Linked DNA regions of Homo sapiens. The protein of the gene in region 2 interacts with the protein of the main gene of each other region in a pairwise test. Each region holds a gene or a part of one and is shown on either strand. Other genes may lie near its edges.

Region 1 (4,034 bases), on a different chromosome or scaffold from region 2:
GACACTTGAAAGGTGTTAGGATTATTATCATAAATATTCGAGTAACTCCTCACTTCCAAAAATCAATTAGAAAATGACAGAGTCCACTGGAAAACTAAACAAATATAGTCAGGCAATTCACAGAGAAAGAGAACAAAAGCCAATACATGCATACAAACTGTTTCCCCCATAGTTCCTAGGAAAATGCAAATTAAATATCATTTATTAAACATTTGCTTGAAATCAATTTAAAAATCTGATATCTGGTTAAGATGTGTCCAACTCTCACATGCTCCTTATAATAACTTTGGTAGGAATGTAAATTGCTGCAACTGCTTTAGAACATTTTCTGCAATTTCTTGTAAAACTGAGGAAGCATACACCTTGGGACTCAGCTCTTTTCAGTTCTGGGTGTCAGATGGAGAAAAATATCTCCAATAAGAGCACAAGTTATATACGAAAACTTTCAGCATTCACTGCCTTTGGCAGTGAAAGATGACAAATAACCTAATTGTAAAGGATGTGAAATCGTTACTCATACAAGGGACTCCCACATAACAGTTAAAATGAATAAACTACATGAATTACGTGAATCAACATGAATAAATCTCAAAGACAATCTTAAGTGAAAAAAGTTGTAAAGGTTATATAGTATCATCATTAAAGGTAAAATTTAAAAAGATAAGATAGTACATAAGATTTACAGATGAAACATGAATATATACTAAAATATACATAAGAGTAACATATATCACATTTGTGGATACTTCTGAGGGGAAAAAACATTATTTTCCCCAAAAAGATTTACAGAAAATAAGGTTTGGTGACATGTACATAAGTGCTTCACTACTGTCCATACTTTCTATTTGAAATTTTTCATAAATAATTTTCAAAGCAAATTAAAAAAAAAAGTTGGATTCTCAAGAAAATATGCAACCAATGCAACTCATTAGGAAAAAATCTGCTGTTGAGAAAAAATGTGAACCACTGAAATCTGAGTGGTAGGGAGGGACTGTGAAGTCTAGGATTCAGCAATTTTACAAGTGTTTTTAAGCTTTGCAAAATTAAAAAAAAAACAAAAACTGGAGAGAAATCTTAAACACATTTTGATATGGTTTCTGCAGAGAAAAACAATAATCAGCAAAATCATATAAAAAGAAGACTCTGGCCTCAGGTAACAAAAAATGGCGAATAAATGTCTGTGTTTTAGGTCAAAATACTGTATTTACAAAGTTAAAAAATAAAATACACTTTAAAGTGTTAAAATATGTTACTGAACATTTTAACTGAAAAAAGTTTTAAAGCTGGTAAAAACAGAGTATATTTATATTCATTTACTGTGTTTTAGTCAGTTTTTAAAATGAACTAATACAGGTCCCAATCAAATCAGATAAAATGGCTTCTATCACAGTAATAATTAGAAAAGTTTCTTCTAGCCAGGCATTGTGGCTCCTGCCTGTAATCCCAGCACTTTGGGAGGCCAATGTGGGTTGATCACTTGATGCCAGGAGTTCTAGACTAGACTGGCTAACATAGTGAAATCTCGTGTCTACTAAAAATACAAAAATATTAGTCAGGTGTGGTAGTGCAGCTATATGGGAGGTTGAGGCATGAGAATCGCTTGAACCCAGGAGGCGGAAGTTGCGGTGAGCCGAGATCGTGTCACTGGACTCCAGCCCGGGCGACAAAGCGAGACTCTCATCTCAAAAAATAAAAAAATAAAAAAAATTTTTTTTTTCTTCAAACAGATAATTGGATTAAGATAAATTAAGGAGGAGAAAAAGGAAATCAGAGGTAAAGTTACAAGGCAACGAACTATGTGGCAATGTATATTAGCAAATAAGGGACACAATCTGGCTTTGACCTTTCTTATTTTTTATATATATTTTTTGAGACGGAGTCTCGCTCTGTCGCCCAGGCTAGAGTGCAGTGGCGAGATCTTGGCTCACTGCAAGCTCCACCTACCGGGTTAACGCCATTCTCCTGCCTCAGCCTCCAGAGTAGCTGGGACTACAGGTGCCCGCCACCACGCCTGGCTAAATTTTGCTTTTTTTTTTTTTTTTTGTATTTTTAGTAGAGATGGCGTTTCACCATGTTAGCCAGGATGGTCTCGATCTCCTGACCTCGTGATCCGCCTGCCTCAGCCTCCCAAAGTGCTGGGATTACAGGCATGAGCCACCGTGCCTGGCCTGACCTTTCTTAATACAAGGGAAACTAGGACAACTATCCCTCATCACTGTACAGAAAATAATGCTTAGTATTTTGTTAATGCCAGAGATTCTTTTTATTTGGAGGTAATCATCACCAGTTTTTAGCCACAGATCTATAATGGAACTTTTTTTGCCATAAAGCTATTTCCTAATATTCAAAACTTGGGCTACCATGGTCATATTTGATAGGAAAAGCATCTTGGATTTAGGAAACTAATTACTTTAGAAACCTTATCTGTCCATAGTAATAATACATTTTTACCCTTTAGGGTAATTTCATTTACTCTATTAATTTTAATTTTAGGTAAAAAATTCTTTTCCTTAGTTATTGGGGAGTCTCTGTTCCATTAGTTTCCTTTATTCATGGCTAAATTACTACAAAATTCAACAGAGTTCATCATGATTAAAGGAAACTAATGGAATAGACTCTGTAACTTGTGCCAGTGAAGTTGAATACCTATTTCTGAAATTCCTGGCCTCAAGTGATCTTCTCACCTCAGCCTTCTGAGTAGGTGGGTCCTGTAAGTTGTTTACAGGAAGTTCAGTTTTTCTTAGTAACAGGCAGCACATTGAGCTAGCACCAAAGATCTCTACTTACTGGATGCAGAAAATGGGGTCACCAGACTTGGCAAATAAAAAACGCAGGATGCCCTGTTAGATTTGAATTTCAGACAACGAATTACTTCTTTACAGGATCAGCTCATTTTAAAATTAAAATATCCTATCTGATAGAAGACATTGCCAACTGTGATAAAAACTAAATTTTACACAGATTAAAATTCAGCGGCAAACTAATCCCACTCACTTGAGTAAAACTGCACACACCTGAGTAAAACTGCACACACCTGAGTCAAGGTAGTTTTAAAGTCTTCCATAGGTTAGCTTTCTGATCTACGATTAGGCAGTTTGTTCACATACTGTCAAAGAGTCCAAGTCCAGCTAGCTCAAGGAACACCAAATTTCAGACACTGATCCTAAGTGGTCACTGTTTGCATTCTAAAAATCACACCCTCTGGTTGTTCCTCCTCTGTTATATTCCTCAATGTTCTCATTTCCAGCTCTTTCTGACTTCCTCCTATAAGCTAAAGTTCTGCATTTGGGCCTGTTTCCTAGCAACTGTTTTTGCTCATTTTGGTCTGTGTTCTGGCAATGTGGCCTACAGTTTATATTTTGTTTTCTTCAAATGACAGTCCAGCAAGTTCATATTGTTCCTTTCACCTACAGTACAGTGCTATGTTCTTCCATAACGATGATTTATCTGGCCCCTTCCTTAATATAGTTGGAAATGCATTACTGTTTACTCTCCCTGAATCAGCACTGGCATCAGCTGAGACCTCAGTAGAAATACAGAATCTCAGTATCAGCTCCAGACCCAATGAGTCAGGATCTGCATTTCAAAAAGATACCCAAGTGATTTGTAAGCACATTACAGTTTGCTATGTACTGCTTCAGATAATTCAATTAAAAAATTTAAATTTAAAATGTTTTGATATCTTCTATATTTTATAGAAGATAGCAAAAAAGAGTAAGAAAAACACAGATATGTATTTGCCTTACAGGAAGTCTAACTCTAGGGAAGATTATTGAGGGAGAGGAGATTTAAATTCGATACACTAAGGACAGAGAAAAACATCTGCTTCAATAGAAAACTGCACTGTTGAGAGCACAGCCTTTCAGGTTTTCACATTCTGATTACATGGGAAGTCTGATTCTTTCAGCATCTTGGAGCTATTTTACAACTGTCAACTGTAGATAACCAACAGCAATGCAAAATAATTGTCTGTATTCTTGTAAATTCTATCTGCTGAAGGTTCAATGGACTTCCGTCTGACTGTGGAAGCAGCC
Region 2 (2,994 bases):
ACCTGTACCTTTGTAGGGTCACTGGGAGTGAGGGACCCTCTAAAATACCATCTCCTGCATGAAACATTTCTTGTTTCCCTGGTTAAAAAGAGTATCTCCTGCAATCGCACTTAGCACTTATTGCCCTACTCTAGCTACTAGCTTTATGTTGTTTCCTGCTGTGAATTGTAGGTCTCTGAGAGCAAAGTCTAGGTCTGGTTCCTGTTTGATCAGTACAATGAGCTGCACATATGTTTCCAAGCAATGGCTGTTAAGCTGAATTCCAAGGAAGCAAGACTCGGGGCTGTAGCCTAGAGCTAAGCCCTGAGCCCAGATCTTGCCCTAAACTCCAAGGTGCTACCCCGATCACCAGACCTTTAAGTTTATACACTTCTGCTCCCTATGGCAGAACACAGGCTCTGAGCAATTAGCAGCCTGAAGTTCATTGTTTAAGATTCATTGGAGGAAGTTCCCAGCAATAGATTTCAAAAAGCTGGCAGGAATCCAGAAGAACAGCTTTATTTAGGGAATAAGAAAGCTTTATTTAATAGGGAATACGAATTTACAAGATATTAACATTACGCTTTTTCCACTCCATAATTTGAAGTTCATTTTTTACACCACCCAGCTGTTACATAGGAGCACGGTGGAAATTCAATACCTGTTACAGCTGGAAACAATCTGGAAGAATTCTGACTCTATTAGCAGACAGCTTACTAAAACTTTGTTCTAGTAGTCATATAAAATAATTTATTTGGTCCCAAGTGTCACTACTATATTCAAAGTCATCCAATGTGATAACAAAAATTGTAGAACATTATACGTTTTCATTCCCAGTGATCATTGCCACAGTTTGCTAAAGTTCCTGGCTGAAAATAAATATTTTCTAGATATCATTCTAAGTTGTTTAACTAAATGTAGATGAAATAACATCTCAGGAAAAGTTTGTCAACTCATTAATTTGATTTCCTCATTTGGCATGGAAAAACAATTACCCTTTCAACTTCATCAGTGTCTCTGTAGAGACTTGGATTTTTCGCAGCCTCAGTTCTGCTTGAAGAACGCCAAAGTGTCTCCTCTTGATTTCATGTGGCTCTTCACAAATCCAGTTAATTTCCTGAACCCCTGGGCCAGCCCCTCCCCTGTGAGGGCACAGCAGGGTTGCACATACCAGTTCCGGTCACTGCAAAGCTTCTTCACTTTGAACATTCTGGTGATGTCCTCAGCAGTCAGAGCTCCAGGCATGTCTTGTTTGTTGGCTAATAGAACAACAGGCACATTTTTAATGTGTTCATTCTTCAAAATGTGCTCAAACTGTCTCTGAGACTCTTCCAGTCGCTGTTTGTCTGTACTGTCCACAACATACACCAGCCCATCGGTGTTCTCACAGTAACAGCCCCAAACAGTTCTCATTTTTTCCTGTCCTCCAACATCCCAGACTGTGAGTGAAAGATTCCTTTCCAACTCGATCATTTCCACATTGAAACCTATTGTAGGGATGGTGGTAATATCCTTAGCAAGCTTTAATTTATAAAGGAGAGTAGACTTCCCAGCTGAGTCAAGTCCCAAAAGAAGAACTTGGGCTTGTTTGGTTTGCGGATTTTTAGAACCCAGCGAACCCATTTCAGCCTTTTTCTCTCTCTGTCTCTAAATACCTTTTTTTTTTTTCTTTCTTTCTTTCTTCGAATGGCCAGAGACAATGTGTCCTTTCTGGATCTCACATGAAAATGTTAGGAAGAAAGAAGAAAGCAAATTCTTCATGCTGTATTCTAAGAACAAGAACCTAGATGTGTTTATGTTGTAGCTTATCAACTTGATTATGGGCAAACAGTATTTTATTTGCAGTCCCAGCCAATCCTGAGGGATCTGTGGTATGAGTAACCAGCCAATGCCATGGTGACTCAAAGGGGAAATTCTCTGTGAATGAGTAAGATTAGGAGAGGCCTACCTGGCTGATGCTGCAGTTTTGTTTTCTTTCAGGTGCTAGAAATCTAGAGGAACCTGAAGGTTCAGACACGCAGAGGAGCATGGTTTAGTAGCAGAATAAAAACTTAACTTTTCATTTTAACTAACTTTTAACTTAAATTTAACTAAACTTTTTGTGTAACTTTTTGTGGAACTTCTCTAGGTATTCAACCATTTATCTTATCCCAGTTGTAAATAAGGAACCAGGCTTCTTAAGTTGTGAAGAGAGAGTTATTCTCACACTCTGTCTGCAGTATCTTAAATCCGCCTTGTTCAGATTACTCAGTAGGAAACTTTAAACCACTCAAGGTTATCTGAACCTTACTCCCTAATCACATACAGAATCACTTTCTTTAAAATTCTAGGCAGAGAATTTACACTACTGCAGTCACAAAACCAAATATATGAGGGGGAATTTATAACACGAACAGTTTTACATTAAGCAGTCCAATTAAAGATGGCAAATAAAAACATGCATTTATTTCCTCTCCTTCCCAAGACTCCACAGAATAATGGTAAAGGCATTAAAAGAACATATAGGCCAGGCATGGTGGCTCACGCCTGTAATCCCAACACTTTGGGAGGCCGAGGTGGGTGGATCATGAGGCCAGGAGATCAAGACCAGCCTGGTCAACATGGTAAAACCCCATCTCTACTAAAAATACAAAAAAATTAGCTGGGCGTGGTGGCCCGTGCCTATAATCTCAGCTACTTGGGAGGCTGAGACAGGAGAATCGCTTGAACCAGGGAGTCGGAGGTTGCAGTGAGCCGAGATCGCACCACTGCACTCCAGCCTGGTGACAGTGAGACACTCCGTCTCAAAAAAAAAAAAACAAAAAAAACATATAAATCCATAACAAAACAGCAAGATAATTCATCAAAGGGTCAGAAATTTTAACAAAATTCTGGAAAATGGAAACTAGATGGAAAAATGAGTGATAACTGATATAGCAGGATAAAGCCAAGGCTTGGAGTGCTGATGCAGAGGAGATAGACAAGAGGTGACAGGTATGGCAGACAGAAGGGGTGAAATAAAGGACTAAAAACAGC

What was found.
Region 1: the proteins of ARL14 (region 2) and ARL14EP interact in binary tests that used the Homo sapiens proteins (3 or more experiments, as listed by UniProt).

What each region holds. Positions count from the first base shown.
Region 1 is NC_000011.10:30,325,812-30,329,845, reverse strand, and holds part of ARL14EP (ARL14 effector protein), read right to left. Parts: intron 2,841-4,034; exon of another isoform or gene 2,788-2,840; intron 1-2,787.
Region 2 is NC_000003.12:160,675,955-160,678,948, reverse strand, and holds ARL14 (ADP-ribosylation factor-like protein 14), read right to left. Parts: upstream 1,790-2,994; 5' UTR 1,603-1,789; coding exon 1,024-1,602; 3' UTR 501-1,023; downstream 1-500. UniProt on the Homo sapiens protein: GTPase that recruits MYO1E to MHC class II-containing vesicles via the effector protein ARL14EP and hence controls the movement of these vesicles along the actin cytoskeleton in dendritic cells.